Regions from separate parts of the Homo sapiens genome. Here region 2 is linked to region 1. Evidence: fine-mapped expression QTL. A gene starts in region 1. The other region holds a variant in brackets. All regions are shown on one strand. Distances are between the middles of the regions. Region 1 holds the start of TTLL13 (tubulin tyrosine ligase like 13). Region 2 overlaps SEMA4B (semaphorin 4B).

The links.
Region 2: its variant is fine-mapped to the expression of TTLL13 in whole blood (TOPMed, PIP above 0.99).

The regions. Positions count from the first base shown.
Region 1 is chr15:90,244,395-90,256,100 of GRCh38, reverse strand. It overlaps TTLL13 (tubulin tyrosine ligase like 13), which reads right to left and starts at 6,545. Exons shown (of 15, transcript NM_001396017.1): 1 at 6,293-6,545; 2 at 5,214-5,481; 3 at 4,507-4,547; 4 at 2,734-2,852; 5 at 216-346. The coding sequence starts at 5,470. GDPGP1 (GDP-D-glucose phosphorylase 1) reads right to left here. Exons shown (of 4, transcript NM_001013657.3): 4 at 10,290-11,706. It also overlaps a transcript of CIB1 not described here.
Region 2 is chr15:90,205,177-90,216,882 of GRCh38, reverse strand. The region is part of intron 1 of SEMA4B (semaphorin 4B); the gene reads right to left. It also overlaps the pseudogene RPS12P26. Among named protein-coding and RNA genes, the nearest start is that of SEMA4B, 9.7 kb to the right of the region's middle. RefSeq lists silencers at 1,952-2,246, 4,191-4,365 and enhancers at 4,429-5,628, 7,164-7,213. The variant G/A (reference allele first, on the strand shown) is at 7,499.

The DNA of each region.
Region 1 (11,706 bases):
CAAGGCTTTCCCGGGGCCGCATGGAGCTCTTCCTGCTATCTAGTCCATGCTCTTCCTGGAGCACTCAGTCTCAGACCCTCTTTTCTTTGACCAGCTGAAACTTTCTCATTCCACTTCCATCCCTCTGAGACATTCCTAGGTCACAAGACCAGAGCTCTGAGAGCGACCCTTTTCCTCCCCCTGGTATCTCAGCATGGGAAGCCAGACCCACTCACTCTGCGGGGAGGCACCAGGTGCGGGGGAAGATGTTGTACTCAGAGGGATAGAGTTTGTACATGCGGTTGAGGTTCCGAGCCAGCAGATCTTTGCGGCAGATTTCTGTCATGCCAGGGAAGTGGTTGATTTTCTGAAACACAGCCAGTTAGTATGAGCCCCCAGAGTAAGTGGCATTTCCTAGCACCTGGGCATCCCAGGAAGCAGTGGAGGAGGATTGGGAAGGTTAAGGGAGAAGTCACAGTGGAGGTAAGCACTGCACCAAGGACCCCAAGGGCAAACATAGGAAGGTTCCTTAAGGCAGGTGAGAAAACCCTCTGTGACTCCTACCCAACACACACATCCACACTGAGCTCAGCAAATGAGGGGCAGTGAGAAGGAATGTAACTAGCCAAGACTGTGGCTTCCACAGTCCACCTTCTAACACCCCTCAGACCACCAGGCCTAGTCCTCTAACAATAACTAATGCATGATAGCACAAAGCAGACAATGAGACGAAAGCATTCCCCAAAAGACACAAAAGATAAAAGGAAACTAAGAACCAGCCCCAAGGAATGTGATGCCATGGCACCCACTGAGGGCATGGCATCACCCTGGTGCCTGCCAGAAACCCCTGGCTGCTCTGTCCTGCTGGATGGGTGGCAGCATCCGGGATGCCACCAAGTAAAGAACAAATAATGAGATAGGATGTACCCACCAGACACTTCCTTCAGGTAATTCCAGAGACCCAGGAGGAGAATCTTTCCGTTGGAAAAGAATACCCTGGGGATGGTCTTTCCTGTCTGCACAGGGGGACAGCCACAAAGAGTATGCTAAGTGCTCTCCACTGGGTTTCCCCATCACTGGCCGCACTCACTGTATGAACTTAGTATTTCTGACCCTCCATGTCCTAACCAAGGGATATCTGCTGCTCAGGGCTGTTCTTGAGGATTTAATGGGGTAATACTATAAAAGCACTTAACACGGAGTCTGTTGTACAGTAAGCCCTCAGTAAATGCTGCTGATTATTGTTATCCTTATCCTTTTTTTTTCCCCCTTCCCTGAGACAGGGTCTCCCTCTGTCGCCCAGGCTGGAGTGCAGTGGTGTGATCTCAGCTCACTGCGGCCTCTGCCTCCCAGGCTCAAGAGATCCTCCTGCCTCAGCCTCCCAAGTGGCTGGGACTAAAGCATGCACCACTACGCCTGGCTAATATTTTTTTATTTTTGTATTTTTGGTAGAGATGGGGTTTTGCCTGTTGCCCAGGCTGGTCTCAAAGTCCTGAGTTCAAGCAATCTGCCCACCTTGGCTTCCCAAAGGGATTTCAGGCACGAGAGCCACCGTCCACCGTGCCCAGCCTGCATTCCTCATTTTACAAATGCCCCTCCTTTGGAGCGTCCTTTTTTTTTTTTTTTTTTTAGATGGAGTCTCACTCTGTCACCCAGGCTGGAGTGCAATGACACAATCTTGGCTCACTGCAACCTCCGCCTCCTGGGTTCAAGTGATTCTCCTGCCTCAGCCTCCTAAATAGCTGGGATTACAAGTGTGCGCCACCATGCCTGGTTAATTTTTGTATTTTTAGTAGAGATGGGGTTTTACCCTGTTGGTCAGGCTGGTCTTGAACTCCTGACCTCATGATCCGCCCGCCTCGGCCTCCCAAAGAGTTGGGATTACAGGCGTGAGCCACTGTGCCCAGCCTTTTTTTTTTAAAAAAAAAAAAAACAGGGTCTCACTCTGTCACACAGGCTGGAGTGTAGTGGCATGATCTCTGCTCACTGCAACCTCCACCTCCTGGGTTCAAGTGAACTCCTGACCTGAATTGATCCACCTGCCTTGGCCTCCCAAAGTGGTGGGATTACAGGTGTGAGCCACCACACCCAACCTCCTCTGGAGCTTCTTGAGAACTTCTAGCACTTGCTTTCTCTCTTGGGCACCTCTCCCAAGACTAGTTGTGGGACAGGTTTTAATTTCCTCAACTTCCTGCCTGGCTTCCCCAAAGAATAAGCCTGCAGACTCTTTTAAATTATTTTATTGCTGATCACCACAAACGCCCAATTAGAGGATAATAAAAATGTCACAAGGCAGTTCTATTCTTGTGGACCCCGGTGGATCATTCCTGAATTTCTTGCCACCAGGCAGGACCCCGCAGTCTCCTAATGGATGTGGAATGCTAAACTAAGTTGCTTAGAAGGCTGGATCATTCAACTGGCCCTGCTGTTAGCTCTGAAGCTGCCTCCCAGTATTCTCCCTAAGATGTGCTCACCCACCCTGGAGAGGGCCAGCTACACACAGATGCCACCAAGCAAAGTGCAAATCATGAGATAGGATGTGCCCACCAGAAACTTCCTTTGGGTAATTCCAGAAACCCACAATCTCCAAGAGGAGATCTTTCCATTGGAAAAGAAGACCCTGGGGGTGGTCTTTCTTGTCTGCACAAGGGGACAGCCACAAAGAGTAGCAGTCTTGGGTGCCTGGGCAAGGAGGTGGGAATAGTCATTCTGGGGCCCTAGCCCCTGTCGGCTCTCAGGTCAGGAGATGGGTACCTGAAACCTCTTCATGTCCATGACTCGTTCCAGTGAGACAGCGCAGTCTGTCCAGTACAGAGTCCACTCTTCATCCTCCCCCACCTCCTTCAGGCCACACATTTGGGCTGCCCGACGCACTGCAGAGACAGGGAGATCAGTAGTGCCAGCATGGACACCAGCAACAAGCCCTGGAACTGTGTAGCTGGGTCAGGTAAGGTATACACCTGACCCGAGGGCAGGTTGAAGAGGGAGGTAGTTCTTGCCTCAGCCCTGTACTTTAGTTACCACATGACAATTTCAAGTTCTTAGGGGCTGTCAGGGCCCTTCCAAAATACCTAGCAGAGAAAACTAGAACCTGGTTTTTTGTTTGTTTGTTTGTTTGTTTTTTAGAGACGGAGTTTCGCCCTTGTGCTGGAGTGCAGTGGCACGGTCTTGGCTCACTGCAACCTCCGCCTCCCAGGTTCAAGAGATTCTCGTGCCTCAGCGTCCCCAATAGCTGGGACTACAGGCGCCCACCACCACACCTGGGTAATTTTTGTATTTTTAGTAGAGACGGGGTTTTACCATGTTGGCCAGTCTGGTCTCGAACTCCTGACCTCAGGAGATTCGCCTGCCTTGGCCTCCCAAAGTGTTGGGATTACAGGCATGAGCCACCGTGCCCAGCTGCTCCTGTCAGTCTTATCTCTCAATCAGGGATGTTTATGGCTTGGAGAGCTGCCTATAGGTGGGGTCACACTGGCACTTCACACTCCATACTTGTGTGGTTCCTTATAAAGATGCCAGAGGGAATATTAGGGGAAGGACCTAGCTGGAGATTGTTTTTTTTCTTAATCGTTGAAGTCCCTTCAAATCTTCCTTGAAAAAACTGTTTTAAGCTTGTCTCATCTCTGGTAAAATCTGGGAAGGGTCTGGCATGGTGGCTCCTGCCTGTTATCCTAGGCCTTTGAGAAGCTGAAGTGGGAGGATCACTTGAGCCCAGGAGTTCAAGACCAGCCTGGGCAACATAGCAAGACTCTGTCTCTACAAAACATTTAAGAATTAGCTGGGCAGGCTGGGCATGGTGGCTCATGCCTGTAATCCCAGCACTTTGGGAGGCTGAGGTGGGTGGATCACCTGAGGTCAGGAGTTCAAGACCAGCCTGGCCAACATGGAGAAACTCTGTCTACTAAAAGTACAAAATTAGCCAGATGTGGTGGCACATGCCTGTAATCCCAGCTATTTGGGAGGCTGAGGCAGGAGAATCGCTTGAACCTGGGTGGTGGAGGTTGCAGTGAGTCGAGATCACGCCATTGCATTCCAGCCTGGGCAACAAGAGCAAAACTCGGTCTCAAAAAAAAAAAAAGAATTAGGTGAGCATAGTGGTGCAGGCCTGTAGTCCCAGCTACTGGGAAGCTCAGATAGGAAGACGGCTTGAGCTCGGGAGTTCAAGGCTGCATTAAGCTATGATTGCAATACTGCACTCCAGCCTGGATGACAAAGCGAGACTCTGTCTCAAAAATAAATAAATAAAATCTGGGAAGGGTGGGGCAGTAGTGGCTCTTGGACTTTTTTTTTTTTTTTTCTTGTTTACTGTGAGGATACCCTCCCTAACACTGAGACTACCTGGAATGGCAATGTCTCAGCTTCCAGTGTCTGAGGCAGAGGACACCTAGGAAGCTCAGTACAGGTTAGAGGCAAGCCCGCCAGGCCCCAGGGGCTGGAAGCCTGATCGGGGGTCCATTCCAGAGGAAGAACAGCAGCTGTAGGCACCATGTTATGCACCACAGTGTGAGCGACGGGCTGGGTGCTTACCACTCTCATACTTGCAGTTGGTCAGGTTGATGGCCAGTGATCTGGAATGGAGGAATAGCATAAATCAGGAAGAGTGGGAGGGAAGGACAGGTACTCAGATGAAAAGACATCCAACAAATTCACAACACAATTCCTTTTCTCTAGAAGCCACTTAAAAGACAGACCAGGATGGGCTGGGCGCGGTGGCTCATGCCTGTAATCCCAGCACTTTGGGAGGCCGAGGCGGGTGGATCACAAGGTCAGGAGATAGAGACCATCCTGGCTAACACAATGAAACCCTGTCTCTACTAAAAATACAAAAAAAAAAAAAAAAATTTGCCATGCGTGGTGGCAGGTGCCTGTAGTCCCAGCTACTCGGGAGGCTGAGGCAGGAGAATGGCCTGAACCCGGGAGGCGGAGCTTGCCGTGAGCCGAGATCACGCCACTGTACTCCAGCCTGGGCGACAGAGCGAGACTCTGTCTCAAAAAAAAAAAAAAAAAGACAGACCAGGATGACATAAACAGGCTGGGATTCCAAAATGAGCCAGCCTAAATGGTTCTGAATTTTGTTTCTGTTGTATCAAAGGGTTAATGACACTCCAGCATTTCCTGTCCTCTTTTGTAGGCTAAAGGGAAGATCTGAGATCCCAGCTCCTCCAGATGTTGAAGGGAGGCCAATGGGTGACTCCCTGGAGCTGGGCAGTTGAGGGGATCTAGGGAATAGTTACCTGCGTTTCCGCCTTCTCTTCCTCCTCCCAGCTTCTAAGTCGCCTGTGTCAACTGGGGCTATGACTTTCTTCGGAATTTTTGTGGCCATAATGGGTGAGGGAACCCCATTTTTTAATGCCTTATAGTCAGCTTTTAAGAGAGCCTGCTGTGAAGAGTTAGAGGGGTTGGTAACTCCCTCTTTAACACACTTCTCAGATTCCTTTTCCTCAACATAGTCTTCCTCTGATTCCATGGTCCTACAGGTACTCGGCTCCATTCTCTCAGATTCTGAGGGGTTGCGGGGTGGGAATGAAGTGTATATCAGACCTCAGACCTCCCTCAGGCCCTAGAAGGCCTGAAGGAATCCACCAGAACGACCTTCATGCTGTTATAAGGGAAAGTTGCTGCCCCTTCAGGACAAAACTGTTTCACTGAGGAATGGGATGTGTCCAGGTAGGTGGAGGTGCATGGGGGTGGAAGACACCAGTGAGATGTGGATTCCCTGATGACAAGCCCCAATCATCCAGGTTCACACTGGATCATACAACGCACAGGGGTGCCTTCAGGAGTTGGACACAGATGGTATGGGCCATGACCATGGCTCTTTTGTTCCTAATTGGGAAAGAGGATGGCTGTGAGTGCTGGGGGGACCTTCGCTTTAAAATACAGCTGAATCGGCCCAGCACGTTGGGAGGCTGAGGCGGGCAGATCACTTGAGGTCTGGAGTTGGAGAGCAGCCTGGCTAGCACGGTGAAATCCCGTCTCTCCTAAAAATACAAAAATTAGCTGGGTGTGCTGGTGCGTTGCCTGTAATCCCAGCTACTCGGGAGGCTGAGGGAGGAGAATCACTTGAACCTGGGAGGTGGAGGTTGCAGTGAGCCGAGATCACACCACTGCACTCCAGCCTGGGCGACAGAGCAAGAGTCTGTCTCTAAATAAATAAATAAATAAATAAATAAAATAAAATACAGCTGAAGACCAAAAGCCCCCTACGCTGGCCCTTTCCCTCTCCCAGGACTCATTTTCTGCACGTGTACACACTAGGGACAGGCACCCGATGGCTAAGACCCTTTGGGCTGTGACGGTGGAGACTGCCCACCCGTGGTTACGAGGAGAGCTGAGGGGCTGCTGGGTCCGCCCCTAGCCGCCTGGGGATGGACTCAGCTGGCCGCTCATGTCCCCTCTTCCCCCGGCTCCAGGTCTCCCTGGGCGTTTCTGGGCGTCCGGAACCGCCTCCTCGTTTCACAGGACTGGCTGTCCCCACGATCGCGAGGGGGAAGCTGCTCCCCCGCAGGGGTTCACTCCTAGCTCCCGGTGGCCGTGGCTGCGGCTGCCGGGGCAGCGCTTCCTCTAGCAAGCCCGTGGCCGCCGCCGTTGCCATGGACACGAGGGCAGTTCCCATTGGAGAAGCGTCCTGGGGGCGGGGCTTTCCCGCAGCCACACCCACTTGGGCGCGGGCCGAGGCTACCTTGGGTGGGGGAGACAGCGTTTGCCCTTTGGAGCTGGCCGGCCTCGACGCCAGATTCTTCCGGTGTATCATGGGACTTGCAGCCCTCCCGCTTCGAAGCCAGTTCTCGCCGCACTCCCATCTTTCCCTAAACCCCGGGCCAAGGAATTTGGCCAAGCATATAATGAGGACAAATAGCTGTTTGCCTCTCCTCAATTCTCCCTTTTTTTTTTTTTTTTTTTTTTTGAGACGGGGTCTTGCTGTGTCGCCCAGGCTGGAGTGCAGTGGAATGCACCATCATAGCTCACTGCAGCCTGGACCTCCTGGGCTCAAGCAATCCTCCTGCCTCAGCCTCCCCAGTAGCTGTGACTACAGGAGCGTGCCACCACGCCGGGCTCAATTCTTTAGTAACTCTAAGTTTAGCTAGCAAAGCCTATGCATTCAAGAGTGACAGCCATGGTAAGGCCACGTGCCTTTCAAGGCTTTGCCTCTGGTGGACTGAGACAGCTCCATTAAGGAATAACCAAACCGCCTTATCACAGTGCTCCTTCACTGTCACCTTCTCTTCCTGACATCCACCCACTTTGATTTCTGCTCACCACCTCCACCCAACTCAGCTCAACTTGTCACCCTAAAATTATACTGTGTGGCTAAATCTAGAGAACACTTAAAATGTTTCCATCCTTTTAAAAAGACATGGACTTTTTTTTTTTTTTTTTTTTTTTTTTTTTTTTTTTTTTTTGAGACAGGGTCTTGCTTTGTAGCCCAGGCTGGATTGCAGTGGTGTGATCGCAGCTCACTGCAACTTTACTTAGCTTCCCAGGCTCAAGCAATCCTCCCACTTCAGCGTCCCAAGTAGCTGGGGCTACAGGTGCGCACCACCATGCCTGGCTAATTTTTGTATTTTTTGTAGAGATGGGGTTTTGCTGTGTTGGCCAGGCTGATCTTGAACTCCTGACCTCAAGTGACCTGCCCACCTTGGCTTCCCAAAGTGGTGGGATTACAGGCATGAACCACTGAACTCGGCCTAAAAAAGGCATGGACATTCTCTAATTCATAGACTGTTTTTGTTGTTGTTAATTGTCTATAAAGATAAGCTATTTCTTTGCCCACATATTCATGTTTCATAGTTCAGGAACATAGGTTAGTGATAAACTTCTATGTAATGCAACCCAAAGAAACTGTTTATACCAAAATCACTTTGCACTTTGAAAGATACCAGCCTTCCTCATCTCCTCAAAATCTTTCATAGAATCAGCAAGGCTAGGTGGCAGGCCCTGTAGTCCCAGCTACTAGGAAGACTGAGGTGTGAGGATCTCTTGAGCATGGGAGTTAAGAGGATGCCGTGAGCTATGATTATGCCACTGCACTTCAGCTTGGGTGACAGAGTGAGAACTCGTATTTAAAAAAACAAATATCTGGCCGGGTGTGATGGCTCACGCCTGTAATCCCAGCACTTTGGGAGGCCAAGGTGGGCGGATCACCAGGTCACGAGATCAAGACCATCCTGGCTAACACGGTGAAACCCCCTCTCTACTAAAAATAAAAAAATAAAAAAATAAAAATTAGCTGGGCATGGTGGCGGGCGCCTGTAGTCCCAGCTACTTGGAAGGCTGAGGCAGGAGAATGGTGTGAATCCGGAGCTTGCAGTGAACGGAGATCGCGCCACTGCACTCCAGCCTGGGCGACAGAGGGAGTCTCTGTCTCAAAAAAAAAAAGCAAACAAAAAAATCTTTGATGGAATTATAATTTCTCTAGAAATCTGCATATGCCTTCTTTCCCGGTTCAGCCACAGCAAATGTATAGAGTGCTACAACCCTCTATACAGGGATACAGCAATGTGAAACCAGAGGTCATGCATCTGAGGTTTCATCAAAACACTGGAAGCCATGGTAGTTATTGTCCTTGATAGGTATGTCAACCTCAACACCAATGTCCTTCCTGGCTGATGGAGAAATGGGCTGCCCGATTCACAGACTTCTTGATCTTTCCTCAGCATATGATACTCTCATATGAAACTCTCCTCCTGGCTAGGAGTGGCAGCCTACATCGCTAATCCCAGCACCTTGGGAAGCTGAGGCAGGAGGATTACTGGAGGCCAGGAGTTTGAGACCAGGCTGGGCAATACAGCGAGACTCTCTCTCTTAAAAAAAAAAAAAAAAGAAAAAAGAAAAGAAAAGAAAAAAAAGGCCAGTGTGGTGACTCATGGCTGTAATCCCAGCACTTTGGGAGGCTGAGGCAGGTGGATCACGAGGTCAGGAGTTCGAGACCAGCCTGGCCAATATGGTGAAACCCTGTCTCTACTAAAAATACAAAAATTAGCTGGGCATGGTGGCGCACGCCTGTAGTCTCAGCTATTCAGGAGGCCTAGGCAGGAGAATTGCTTGAATCCAGGACGCAGAGGTTGCAGTGAGCCAAGATCGTGCCACTGCACTCCAGCCTGGATGACACAGTGAGACTCCGTCTCAAAAGAAAAAAAAAAAAGGAAAGAAAGAAATGGTCCTCCTGGAAATGTTCTGCAGTCCCTTGACTTCCAGGACACTCATTGCATCAACAAACAATTTAGTGTTCTAGGGACTATTCTAGGACCTCGACCACCATTTCTTGCCTGAATTGCCACAATTCAGCAATTTTTTTTTTTTTTTTTTTTTTTTTTTTTTTTTTTTTTTTTTTGAGACAGAGTCTCACTCTGTTGCCCAGGCTGGAGTGCAATGGCTCAATCTCGGGTCACTGCACCCTCTGCCTCCCGGGTTCAAGTGATTCTCCTGCGTCAGCCTCCTGAGTAGCTGGGATTACAGGCATCTGCCACCACACGGGGCTAATTTTTGTATTTTCAGAGAGATGGGGTTTCACCATGTTGGTCAGGCTGGTCTCAAACTCTTGACCTCAGGTGATCCACCTGCTTGGGTCTCCCAAAGTGCTGCTGGGATTACAGGCGTGAGCCACTACACCTGGCCTCAGCAGTCTGTTAACTGGATTCCCTGATTCTATTCTTCACTCCATCCATCCTCCCCATTACAGCGTAAGTATTCTTCCTCAAATGCAAAGCTGTTACTCAAATGCAAAGCTGTTACCCCACATTAAGTATTCTTCAAGGTTTCCCATTAGATCAAGTCTAAACCCTCTTAGTACATGAGGCCCTGCATGAAGAGTTCTGATTATCGTTTTTTGTTTTGTATTTTTTTTTTGAGATGGAGTCTCGCTCTGTCACCCAGGCTGGAGTGCAATGGCACGATCTTGGCTCACTGCAACCTCTGCCTCCTGGGTTGAAGCGATTCTTCCGCCTCAGCCTCCTGAGTAGCTAGGATTACAGGCGCATGCCACCATGCCCGGTTAATTTTTGTATTTTTGTAGAGACTGGGTTTCACCATGTTGGTTAGGCTGGTCTTGAATTCCTGACCTCCGGTGATCTGCCCGCCTCGGCCTCCCAAAGTGCTGGGATTACAGGAGTGTGCCACCGTGCCCGGCCTCTGCATGAAGAGTTAAGCAAAAACGTGGGGAGGTCCTGGGCTGGGTCAGCACTTCCTACCATACTCAAAGCCCAGGGCTCGGAGTACAAAGGGCCCCTACGTGTTTCCTACTCAGTAGAAAAAGCTGCAGTCCAAATGCTCTTCTTGAAGATTCACAAAGCATATAAATAGCTGAGAAATACCACCAGAAAGAAAACCCATTTTACTTTCCCCTTTTTATATGGAGAAACATATTTGAGTCAGGGAAGGCTTTCCTCTAAACATCAGTCCTACGGAGAAACTGGGAAAATCCTGATATTTGGCTTATCACTTTGAACGCAAAATCCACTTTGCTGTAATGGTCATCCGAACTCCCTTCAGAGAGCAAGCAAGCAAAATTAAGTGTGATACTGGAGCTTATGCATGCAAAAGCTTGCAAAAAGTATTAAGGAAAAATTACTGCAGTTTACCAAAAATATGAGGGTGGTCAACATTTTCTGATAGAATGGTAAACTGTTTTTTTCTTTTTTTTTTTTTTTGAGACAAAGTCTCTCTCTGCCGCCCAGGCTGGAGTGCAGTGGCGCGATCTCGGCTCACTGCCACCTCCGCCTCCCAGGTCCAAGCGATTCTCCTGCCTCAGCCTCCTGAGTAGCTGGGACTATAGATGTGCACCCACACCCAGCTAATTTTTGTGTTTTTAGTAGAGACGGGGTTTCACCATGTTGGCCAGGCTGGTCTTGAACTCCTGACCTTGTGATCTGCCTGCTTCAGCCTCCCAAAGTGCTGGGATTACAGGCGTGAGCCACCGCACCTGGCCTAAACTGTTTTTCTTATAAAATGGGCTATGGACACATATTCTGCTTTATCACAGGGAGACTTTGTAACATCATTTGGGATGTAAAACCTCTAATGAAAACTGGAAACTAAGGCTTTATACAGGCCTAGGTATAGGGAGCCAACGACCTGAAGGCCTAAGCCAGGGCTAGGACCCACAGTTTGGGAGGCAGAGAAATCAAAACCCCTCCTGGGTGAGCCCACTCAGACAGCAGCCAGAACCCACCTGTGTGAGCCCCCTTTCACCCTTACGCTGTGAACAGGGACTCTCATTCCTTCAGGATGTTTGATGAAGGAGTGGTGGCGGTGATAATCTCTGTTGAGAGCTGGACCCAAGACTTTATGTATTTATTTATTTTGAGACTGAGTCTCGCACTATCGCCCAGGCTGGAGTACAGTCGTGCAATCTCAGCTCACTGCAACCTCCGCCTCCTGGGTTCAAGTGATTCTCCTGCCTCAGCCTCCCAAGTAGATGGGATTACAGGTGGCCGCCACAACGCCTAATTTTTGTATTTTTAGTAGAGATGGGGTTTCACCATGTTGGCCAGGCTGGTCTCGAACTCCTGACAAGTGATTTGCCTGCCTCGGCTTCCCAAAGTGCTAGGATTAAAGGTGTGAGCCAACGTGCCCAGCCAACCCAAGACTTCTTTTACTTTTGCTGTATAACATTCAAGGGAGCTAAAAGGAAAATGAGATTTCACACCCACATACTCTCTTAGAATAGTGTCTACTGACTAGTTCCTCTGGAACCAGTGTGAAATGTCTGGAGAAACAGGACAGAAC
Region 2 (11,706 bases), 39 kb after region 1:
GTAATGCAAATGTTGAGCATGGGCTTTTCTTTTTTTTTTGAGACGAAGTCTCGCTCTGTTGCCCAGGCTGGAGTGCAGTGGCATGATCTTGGCTCACTGCAACCTCCACCTCCTAGGTTCAAGTGATTCTCCTGCCTCGGCCTCCCAAGTAGCTGGTATTACAGGCATGCACCATCACACCCAGCTAATTTTTGTATTTTTAGTAGAGACGGGGTTTCACCATGTTGGCCAGGCTGGTCTCAAACTCCTGAACTCAAGTGATCTGCCCGCGTCAGCCTCCCAAAAAAGCACTGGTCTTTGAGACTGATGGTTATTACACAGAATGGGAGTGTTTTCAATTTTGACCTCAGAAACCAGAACTGATGACAGACAGACATCATAATATGGTAGCAGGGTTGTCACAAGCTGCTGCCAATGGCTAATGGAATAATAAATACAGGTCAAGTGTACTGTTTTATATTGCAAAGGTAACCAATAAAGGAAGTGAATACAGTACGGTGACAGAATATGTTGGGGGGAGGAATGGAAGGGAGATGTAAGTGAGGGAAAGTTAGGAATTCAAATAAGCCAAGAAATAGTGGTGTAAGTATTTTACTTAAAAATATGGAGGAAATGGGCTGGGCGTGGTGGCTCACACCTATAATCCCAGCACTTTGGTGTGGATCACCTGAGTTCGAGACCAGCCTGACCAACATGGAGAGATCCCGTCTCTACTAAAAATATAAAATTAGCCAGGCGTAGTAGCACATGCCTGTAATCCCAGCTACTCGGGAGGCTGAGGCAGGAGAATCGCTTGAACCTGGGATGCAGAGGTTGCGGTGAGCTGAGATCACACCATTGCACTCCAGCCTGGGCAACAAGAGTGAAACTCCATCTCAAAAAGAAAAAAAAAAAATGGAGGAAATAATGGTAGAACAAGAACCCTAAGAACCCTAAATGATTAAAAGTCCCTTTTAAATTGGCCTGGGGTGAGGGAGGACAGACGTTTTTGCTTTTTATAATAAGCCCTTCTATACTTAAAAATATATATATACGTGCATGTATCCTTGATACAAATTTTATTTATTTTTTGAGACTGAGTCTCACTCTGTTGCCCAGGCAGGAGTGCACTGGCATGATCTCGGCTCACCGCAACCTCCGCCTTCCAGGTTCGAGCAATTCTTCTGCCTCAGCCTCCCGAGTAGCTGGGATTACAGGCATGTGCCACCATGCCCGGCTAACTTTTGTATTTTTAGTAGAGACAGGGTTTTGCCATGTTGGCCAGGCTGGTCTCGAACTCCTGGCTTCAAGCAATCCGCCTGCCTCAGCCTCCCGAAGTGCTGGGATTACAGGTGTGGGCCACTGCGCCCAGACCTTGGTACACATTTTAAGTAGCTTTTGTTTTTGCAGAATAACAACAAGGAAAGACACGAATTATCTACCATGAAGTGAAAATTCAGGTTATATTTAGTATGTATGGTCAAATTCTATTTTTTGTGGGAAAAATATAAGCATAGGAAAAAAATCCAGAAGGATGTATCACAAAACACTAAAACATGGGCTCCCTGGTAGAATTACAGGTAGCTTTCTTTTCTTTTTTACTTGTTATCATTTTTAGATTCTCTAATAAGCAGGTTATCCTTATATAATGTGAAATATATAAATCAAAGAAAAAAAAAAAGAAACACACACACACTTACCCACCAGGGTACTGTTTATGCTTTGGGTAACTAAAGGGTTTGGAGAGAAATTATTTTTAAAATTCTAAGCAGCTGATGAGAACACAAAAACAAGCAAAGAGCAGCACCCTGACCACCCTCAGGCACGTTGTAGCGGACCAGTGGGTTATGACCACACAAACAGTCTCACGAAGCTGAGGAAGCAAAAAGTGCAACACGCCCAATCAAGCAGCTGTGAAGATGACTTCATGTGTGTTTACCTGTGGAGTGTTTTTACATACCCCCAGCCTGGTTCCATAAAGGGTGGGGAGACATGAAGAAAAGAAAGTAGTGAAATATAAACATTAAAATCAGGAGCAGAGAAAACCCAAATCTGAAGAAAAACATCTCCATCAGCAAGGAAGTAAAAATTCACGAGTAGGTCAATGAGTCTTCGCACAGCTGGTAGAGAAGGGCTGAGCCTTTAGTGCTGGGCCTCCTGGTGGCCAAAGAAAAATGGGAAATGAAGCTACTCCATCCTCAATGTCCATAAGGAGGAACACATATCAGCCATTTGGGGGAAGCTCAGCCTTTTTTTTTTTTTTTTTTTTTGAGATGGTGTTTTGCTGTTGTTGCCCAGGCTGGAGTGCAATAGCACAATCTTGGCTCACCGCAACCTCCGCCTCCCAGGTTCAAGCGATTCTCCTGCCTCAGCCTCCTGAGTAGCTGGGATTACAGGCATATGTCACCACGCCCGGCAAAGTATTTTTAGTAGAGACGGGGTTTCTCCATGTTGGTCAGGCTGGTCTTGAACTCCTGACCTCATGTGATCCACCCGCCTCGGCCTCCCAAAGTGCTGGGATTACAGGCGTGAGCCACCACGCCCAGCAGCTCAGCCCTTTTTTTTTTTTTTTTTTGAGACGGAGTTTCTCTCTTGTTGTCCAGGCTGGAGTGCAATGGTGCAACCTACACCTCTCAGGTTCAAGCGATTCTCCTGCCTCAGCCTCCCAAGAAGCTGGGATTACAGGTGCCTGCCACCATGCCCAGCTAATTTTTGTATTTTCAGTAAAGTCAGGGTTTCATCATGTTGGCCAGGCTGGTCTCTCGTACTCCTGACTTCAGGTGATCCGCCTGCCTCAGCCTCCCAAAGTGCTGGGATTATAGGCCTGAGCCACCGCGCCCAGCCGAAGCTCAGCTTTACACCTGGCAGCAAATGGGGAAGGAAGCCCTCGGGTGGGGGTGACACTAGTTAACAGGATGACGGGGGTCAGGTGGCTGAGCCACCGAGCCCGGCCCTCAAGTAGGCCCTTCTGTCAGGCAGCAGAGACATCGTCTCAATGAGCTGCAGTTTCTCATACATGTCACGGGAGGAATGAGACATATAAAGATCACAGGAGTCTCAAGAGGAGTGAGACCAAGACAGACACTGCGGTCCCTTCTTATCTTTTGGATTTTTCCATAGTTCTCTGGAAGCAAGGGCTGGTTCAGATAAGCTGGTTGCCCGTGCTTATCTACCTGCAAAAGAGCGTTTCCACCTGGGCAGGCCCTGTAAGTCTGGGCAGCAGACCGCCCTTGGAATCTGTCCAGACAAAGAAATGCCAAGAGTCAGAGATAAGCCTCAGTCCCAGGTGGCAACTCAATCCCACTTACGCCTGGGAGAAGGGGTGGAAACCTGCCTCGGGCACTACAGAGTGCAGCCGGCTGGAGGGGAAACCTATAGACCAGCCAGTCCCTGGTTCAGCCCAGGCCTCCAAACGAGCCAGCCACAAGCCCTCCAGCCATGCTGGGAGTAGAGTGAATGAAACGACAAAGGGACAGAAAGGGGAATGTGCCTTGGAGAGGGGGGTGAAGGGCCCCTTAACCAGGCTTTCCCCTTCTGGGGCTTCCCTTCCACACTTGCCTCATCTCTCTGCCCTGAGAGTCAGACTGAAAGCCATGGTGTGCAGAGTAGAGTTAGAGACCTGGGTTCAAAGCCATCCTCTACCACTTACTGGCTGTGTGCCACCAGGACACGCCACTTAACCTCTCAAAGCCCCGTTTTCCTTATCTGTAAAATGGGGAAAATAATAACACTTTGCCTCATGGGGTTGTTATTAGAAAAAATGAGATTACGTATGTAAATAATAATATACATAATAACCCACATTTACTGAGACAGCTTTGCTAAAACAACGTTGCACATGGTTTGCAGTGTGGCATGGTGTCTGGCACGCGACCAACACTCAATGAGTGACTCAAAAACAAAATCCAAAAGCCCCGCAGGAAAATCCGGCCCGGTGAGAGCTGGCAGAAGGGCAGGGCTCCTTGCGGGAGTCGGGCCTCCCTCATCCAGGGGGTTCACGAACTTAGCCTGGGCGATTCTAACTTAGGCACGCACCTGGTCACACGAGGGTCTCATGGCCAAAGCCAGACGGCATCAGCTCAGAAACAGAGACTTGCGTGTCACAGGCTCGTGTTGTGGGCGCGAGCTGGTCTGTGCTCGGTGTGAGTGGTGTTACTGTCTAAGGGCCCAGGTGCTTGGGTCACCTCCAGAGTGACTGCAGACGTCTGTGAAGGACCCTGCCTGAGCTTGCCTGTGGTGTGTGTGTGTGTGTGTGTGTGTACACGGTACCGCAGGGCTTGTCCACGCTTGCGCACTCACTCCTAGGTGCTCTTTGTGCAGGGGTGGAGGTGTTTCTGCACTTTACTTCCTGCGAGGGGCTGGCGCACCTTGGGGTCAGTCTTAAGCTTTTATGCTCTCCCTTGTGTCAAAGAGTGTCTCGCTCGCTCTCCTGGGCTGCCTGTGCTGCTCGGACATCCTCTAAATCCATCTATCCAGTGGGTTAGTCCAGTATGAAGAAAGCAGGGCACGCCGAGGCTGCGGCCGGTTTTCCCATTCAGGGTGAACCCTCTCCCTCCACCCCGACAGGCTTCAGCCAGGGGCTTCACCAAGGCCAGTGCATCCCACTAGGCAGATCATCCTTCAAAAAGGCAGACCGGGGCTGGTCTGGGGCTGCCCTGTCCCTCCCTGGAGGGAGACGGCACATGGAATGGGCACATAAGAGTCACCTGCAGGGTCCCCACTCCCCACCCCAGGAAGTGGGGTTCTGAGTAGGAAGTGGGGTTCTGAGTAGGAAGTGATGTGGGAATACTCAGCCCTCAGCCCCATGTAAGGGTCCTCCTTCCCTGTGACTCAGCCGGAAGCCTGGAGCTCTCTGGGGTGAGACAGGAATAGGGCTCAGCACCATCCCCACCCTGGTTAGTCCCCACCCCAGGCCAGCCAGCTAGCTGCAGCAGCGCTGTGACTCAGAACCCCACCCCACCTTTCTCTCTACTGTGGCTCCGGGCACGGCAGCAAGACGCTGACCTGGCCCTAACATCCCACCCTCTACAGGCCCCAGCAGGATCAGGCCAGAAAACACCAGCTTCCCTGTGGAGTCGGTGGGGAAGGGGCCTCCAATGCAAGGAGGCAGCCAGTGGCCTCCCCCACTCTCAGAGAGGGGTCTGGGCGGGACAAGTCCCCAGAGAGCCTCCTGAAAGGCTGTTGTAGCCCTTCGTCCCCAGGGATGTCACGATAAGTCACCAGAACCTTGGACCCACTTACCCCAGCAGCAGCCCCACCTCCAGGGCAGGAGTGCTGACGGGGCCACAGTCAGCAGGAAACTGGGACACACTGCCAACCTGGGTGCACTTCCTTCCTCCACACGGCCCGTGTTGGGCAGGGCAGCCACTTCTTCCTCATGGAGCATGGAGGAGGGGGCCACATTCTGCTGACACCAGCCCAGTGCCAGAGTCGAGTCCCTGACCAGGGACTCTGGGCAGAGGTTGGGGGTATTGTGTGCCAAGGGTCCTCCCATGGACTGAGGTCACCAAGAAAGTGGCAACGAGGGCAAGGGAACCTGGCCTCACAGCATCTGTGCTCCTGGGGCATGCCCCGGAAAGCCATTGCTACAGCCCCAAGTGGGCAGACGAAGAGCCTCTGCCAGAACCCCCAGGCAGTCCCAGTCCCGACCTAGGGCCTGTGCCATGGGTGCACAGACCACTGCCGTCACCTTAGGAGCCTGCCTGCCGCCTGCCTGCTCACAGGTCTACACAGGGACACGCTCAGTCCCTCTGCTCAGGGGCTGGCTCCCCTCTAACAACCCGGCTTCTAGGGCCTCTGCCCTGGGTCTGCCTTCCTGCTTTTATAGATGTCTCCACTTCTTCCAAGGAAATCGGGGTCATCAGGCATAAACAACCTCAACTTCCCACCCCATCTCCTCAGAGACCAAATCCTATGTCACCAACTCTACCTGTCAGAAAGCAGTTTTTGTTCCAATGTCCATTCTAGAAACTTTTGTGCCTCCCTCCACCTGCCTTAGACAAGCTCCCAAAGAGAACAGCCACCCCATGCCATCTCTGCCTCTCACCTTCCACTCACTCCTCCACAGAAGTTGGGCCTCAGCCAGCCCCACGTTCAGCAGTGCCAGCCCTGCCAAGAGCCCAGGGATCGCCTCGCTGACAGACCCCAGACACGGGCCACGCCACCCCGTCCTCTAGGTACCTGTGCCCCCAGTCTCAAGCATCACTCCGTGTCTCCCTCACATGCCTTCTGGGCCTCTAGCCCTCAAAGAGCTAAAGTATGTGAGCACTTTCTCAGCCCTTTAAACGGATTAAGTCATGTCATCCTCACAAGGCTGCTGTGTTTTATTACCTCTGTTTCAGGTGCAAGTCATCCCCGGGAGGAGTGGTGGGGATGCCGCCCGACCCTGGGCCACCTGGCTGCAGCATCTGTGTTGATGACCACCCTCCTGCCTCAGGCTTTGCTCCTGAATGTTCTTGCTCTCTAGGTCTGTCTGCTCCTGGCCCTGCTCTTCTTAACTCCGTTCAAGCCCCTGGGTCACACGTCCATGCTCATCACTTCAATGACGCGGATGCTGGCGATCCCCAAATCTCCTCATCCAAGTGCAGATCTTCCTCCAACACACCAGACCCCACAGTGCAGAAGGGCCTCTGTGGGTGCCTCCCACCACCTCACCGCCCCCTTCCAGTCCCACTCCCTGGCTTGGCATTTTGTGTTTGTGTGTGGCACCACTCACCTGGGTGTCTCACCATCCTCCTTCCTCAGAAGTCCAGTCTATAATCAAATCCTGCCAATTTTCTCTCAATATTTTCCAAATCCATTCCCCTCACCATCCCCACTACCGCAGTCCTGAGCCTGGCACCATCCTCTCTCACCTAGGCCACCATCACAGCAGCCTCCCAACCAGCCTCCCATCTCCAGGCCAGCTGCTATGCTGCAGCCAGAGGGCTCTCTGGGAGCCGTCACTGTTCTGCCTAAAAACTTCAATAGCACCCCGTCGTCCAAGCTCCTAACTTGCTAGTGCTTGCCACCCACCCACCTCTTGGTTCGACCAAGTGACATGGAACTGCAACTCAAGGGCCCAATTCTCTCATCTCCGGTCTGTTCAGGAAGTCCCCTCCACCCAGAAGGCTTTCCTTTTGACTAACTCACACTCATCCTTTGAGACTTGGCTCAGTTCCACCTCCTCCAGGAGGCCTTCCTGGATCCCCGGCTGGGCAAGGGCCCTTCTCCGTATGCCCATCATTTCCTGTTCACACGTCTTGTAGTGCACTGGTGACACTGTCGGATGATGGCAATGTTTGATGTTTGATGATGATGAGGAGGGTCTTTCTGCGCTCTTCTCTCTTTTTTTTTTAAGACAGTCTTGCTCTGTCGCCCAGGCTAGAGTGCAATGGCATGATCTTGGCTCACTGCAACCTTGAACCTTGGGTTCAAGCGATTCTTCCGCCTCAGCCTCAGCCTCCTGAGTAGCCGGAATTACAGGCACCCGCCATCATGCCCGGCTAATTTTTGTATATATATATATATTTTTTTAGTA[G/A]AGATGGGGTTTCACCATGTTGGCCAGGCTGGTCTTGAACTCCTGACCTCAGCTGATCCGCCTGCCTCGGCCTCCCAAAGTGTTGGGATTACAGGTGTGAGCCACCGCGCCCGGTCTTTGTGCTCTTCTTTTCCACCAAGCTGACAGCATCTTCAAGATCAAGACCATGTCTTATTCATATTTGTATCAACTGGTCAGGTGAGCTCCCAGCAGTTGTTCCATAAATGTTTGTTGACTAAACAAATGAATGACACAGTCCCAGTGAGAGTGCTCCAGCCCAGAGAGGGGCCCCAGATAAAAATGGGGCAACGTGGAGGTCCTGAAGCATCACACTCACAAAAGTGTGTCTGAGAAGCACTGCTACCACTCTGACCCCTCCCAAAAGCACTGAACACATAGAAGTATAACAGCTGACAGGAGCTCGAGACCAGCCTGGGCAACATGATGAAACCCTGTCTCTACCAAGAATGCAAAAATTAGCTGGGCATGGTGGCATATGCCTGAGGTCCCAGCTACTCAGGAGGCTGAGGTGGGAAGATCGCTTAAGCCTGGGAGGTGGAGGTTGCAGTGAGCCAAGATCTCACCACTGCAGCCTGGGTGACAGAGTGAGACCCCATCTCAAAAAAAAAAAAGAAAAAGAAAAAAAGAATTAAGTATGACAGGTGGAAGTATGACAGCTGAAAGTATGGTAGGGAGACAAGAAACAAGCTTCACGGACTGGAAGGGGCACAAGACATGTGTGTGAATCCTCACTTGATCACTGACCCACTGTGCAACCCCGAACAAATTCTCAGTCCTGAGAGGGCTGCCTTGCAGGATTGCTGAGAAGACTAAATAAACACAGTACGTGGCAGTGCAAAGCTCTGCAAAGATTAGGGGTCAGTGACCATCAATAATCAAGATGGGTTCTCCCCATGCTCCCTACTCCTCCCCTTGCTTCTTGCCTTCTACTTTTACTCTAGCCCTTTTTCACACGCAAGACTTAGGCCCCAGACACGTGCTGCTACACGGAATGGGGGTCCAACCTTACCAGACCTTCAGAAAAGCTGGAAACCTAGATTTTTATGTAAAATTTCCTAAGTTTTAAATATCAGCAACTAATTAAAATTTTTCTTTCTTTTTTTTTTTTTGAGATGGAGTTTTGCTCTTGTCTTCCAGGCTGGAGTGCAATGGCATGATCTCGGCTCACTGCAACCCCTGTCTCCCAGGTTCAAGTGATTCTCCTCCCTTAGCCTCCTGAGTAGCTGGGATTACAGGTGCCTGCCACCATGCCCAGTTAATTTTTCTATTTTTAGTAGAGATGGGGTTTCACCACGTTGGCCAGGCTGGTCTCGAAACTCCTGACCTCAAGTGGTCCACCCGCCTCGGCCTCCCAAAGTGCTGGGATTATAGGCGTGAGCCACCGCACCTGGCCTAATTAAAATTTTTCTAAAGAACTTGGAAGTCAAACAAAATGTATCTCCAGGCTGGCTGTGGCCCACTACCCTTCAGTTTGCAAACTTCTGTCTGAGATGTGTGCCTCAGTCTCCTGTGTGCCACATGTCTGCCAGCTCTGCCCTCTTCCCAACTATGGCCATGCAACCAGGGGCCTCGGCTGGATCCCCTGCCCCGTCCAGAGACTGACCTCAACAGATTTCTTTAACAGATGGAAAAATATAACCTGCAATTATTCAAGGGCTGAGCCGGGTCATCTTGCTGCTTTTGTACGATTCACAGGTGAAGCAGGAGGCAGCTGTTCTAATGGAAAGAATGTGGTTGCTGAATCGAGAACTGTGGCCCAAGGCTTGGTCCCAAACTCTTCTATAGCTGCATGACCTTGATAATGAGTTAGCTTCACTGAGCTTTGGTTTCCTCATCTGCATGAGATAAAGCAATGCACTTCCACATCCAACAGCAGTGCCTGGCACACAGGGAGTGCACCGCAATGGCCGCTTTTATTTGCTCTTCCAGTTGGCCCCCTTCCTAGAGGATGGGCCAAAAGATGCCAAAAAAGAGGACACGAGTTGGCTAATTTGGCTCCTCTTTAGGAGTATGGTAAAATGATGGCTTCTGTCTCCTACCTACCATCCCCACTGAAACCCCCTCGCCACAGGCCCCCCACCTCTCGGAAGCCTGTTAAGACTACAGGATGGGCTTCCAGATGGATCCAGGAGTGCAGAATAGAGCTTCCATGCACAACAAGTCAGATCACAGGCCTGGGAGGCAGAACTCTAGCAGCTGGACAGAACACTCCACCTCTGTGTATCACTCTGTAGCCACTCTACTCTTCTGTGACCATCTCTGCCACAGGGCAGGAGCCACCCCTTAGTGTTCCAGTATTCAGTGCCCAGAAGAGGGTCGATGGTGAGCTAATAAGTATAGAGCCGCTGTGGGCACCAGGCTTTTTTTGTTTTTTTTGTGAGCCAAAGATATTTTCTTCATTTCTTGCATTAGAAGTTCTCTCTGATGACATGCTTGGCCTGAGACTCCTTGCCATAGTCCTTAACTACTATACAACTGCAACCAACCACTTTACGGGGTTTCCCCTCTCTGTCAATTTGACAGAGACCTACCCATTCCCCCAGTTTCTTTTGTCATCAACCTTAATTAGGTTGATTTGGTGCTCAGCACAAAGGGCTTCCACCAACTTGACATACACAGTCTCATCACCGTTGGATGCAAGCACACAAAGATGGGCTTGGCGCTTGTCTAAGGCTTTGGTAGCTTTGCGAATTCCATGTGCTAGGCCATCGTGGATGAGGGCTGTCTTCAACAGCTCTTGTAAAGCAGCATTAATGTCCATTACCCCTCCAGCAGCAATGCCTTCCTCGGCCATGGCAGTGGGTTACGGGTGAAGCCGAATCTTGAACGCAACTGAGCCTGAGCCTCCGTCTCTGCATGACTTGGTGGCAGCAGGGAAAGAGCCACCAGGCTTTTAATTATCTTATCTTACAGACAGGATAGCTGTCCCACATCCAGCACAGGGAGGTCAGAATGTGAAGAGGAGGGGCAGGGAAACCAGCTGGGGAAAAGCATGGAGAATGCAGTCCAAGGGAGCAGACTTCCCAAAAAGCTAATCTGAGGGAAGGCAGGCCTCGACCACAGGAGTCTCGCGTTGTGTTGTTCCTGTTGCCCCGATCCCCAGGGAGGGCCACATCAGAGGCCCCCTGAGTCCTGCGCCAGCCTGAGCACCCATGGGGGTGGAGTGAGAGGCAACAGGCTCTAAGAAGATAAAGGAAGGAGTGATTGATGACATGACCCGAGTCTAGCCTTTTCTCCAGGCCCCGTGCCACCCTCTGTCTCTTGCCTAGAGGATGAACATGCTGGTATATCCAGATATGCCCCAAAAGTTGTGCAAGTTTAGCGCTCTCCTGGGTTGGCACAGAGGTATTTCAACACCAGCTGGATGTGGGTTGTGCTGAAGGCAGAGCAGAACCAGTGAAGGGCAGGCAGGGAGAGGCATGGTCCAGCCCCATGCAGAGGAGGTTCTTCAGGCAAAGGAGGACTTTGAAAAGGCTGAATCAGGAGCACTTAATAACTGGGCTATAATTAAGCAGGACCCCTGGTAATGACCTCCAATCAGCTCCTGGGGGCCTTGCTTTGTCTTTTCTACCAGGGCAGGCACTAAGCCTGACAAGGCTTGGCACCTAGCAGAGGGCCTGCATACCACCAGTGTGCACAAAAATGGATGCAAATAACCTCACCAAGCAAGGCTGGCAGGGGGTTTCTAGCACACCAGAGCAGAAGCTACCTTTTTACTACGGATGCAGCATGTGCCAGGCACCATGCCAAACACTTTACATACATTATTTCATGTAATCCTCTCAGAACACTGTGAAGATGGCCATTATTCCTCTCTTGCTAATGTGAAAATGGGCCTGGAGAAGGCCAGGAGCTTGCCCAAGGTTGTGCAGTTAGTAAGGGTGGCAAGCTACTTTACAAAGCCAGGCTCTGAGCATCCGCAGTTAGAGCGCCTTCCACTCACCTCTGCAGAGCCAAAGAGATGCTGGCCCATAGGACAGAGCTGGGGACAAAGGCTCATGTCCAGTTGAGACCATGTCAAGGAGGGAAGCCAGTAACCGGGCTGAGGGCTCAACAAGCGACCAGCATCAGGGCTTCCCAGGGCAGCCTTGACCCTGGCTGCCTCCTCCAGGGCCAGAGGGCAAGCAGCTGATTTGTGCCAAATGCTCCATTCTCTCTGCTCAATGGCGTTTTGTTGACTGCAGTTT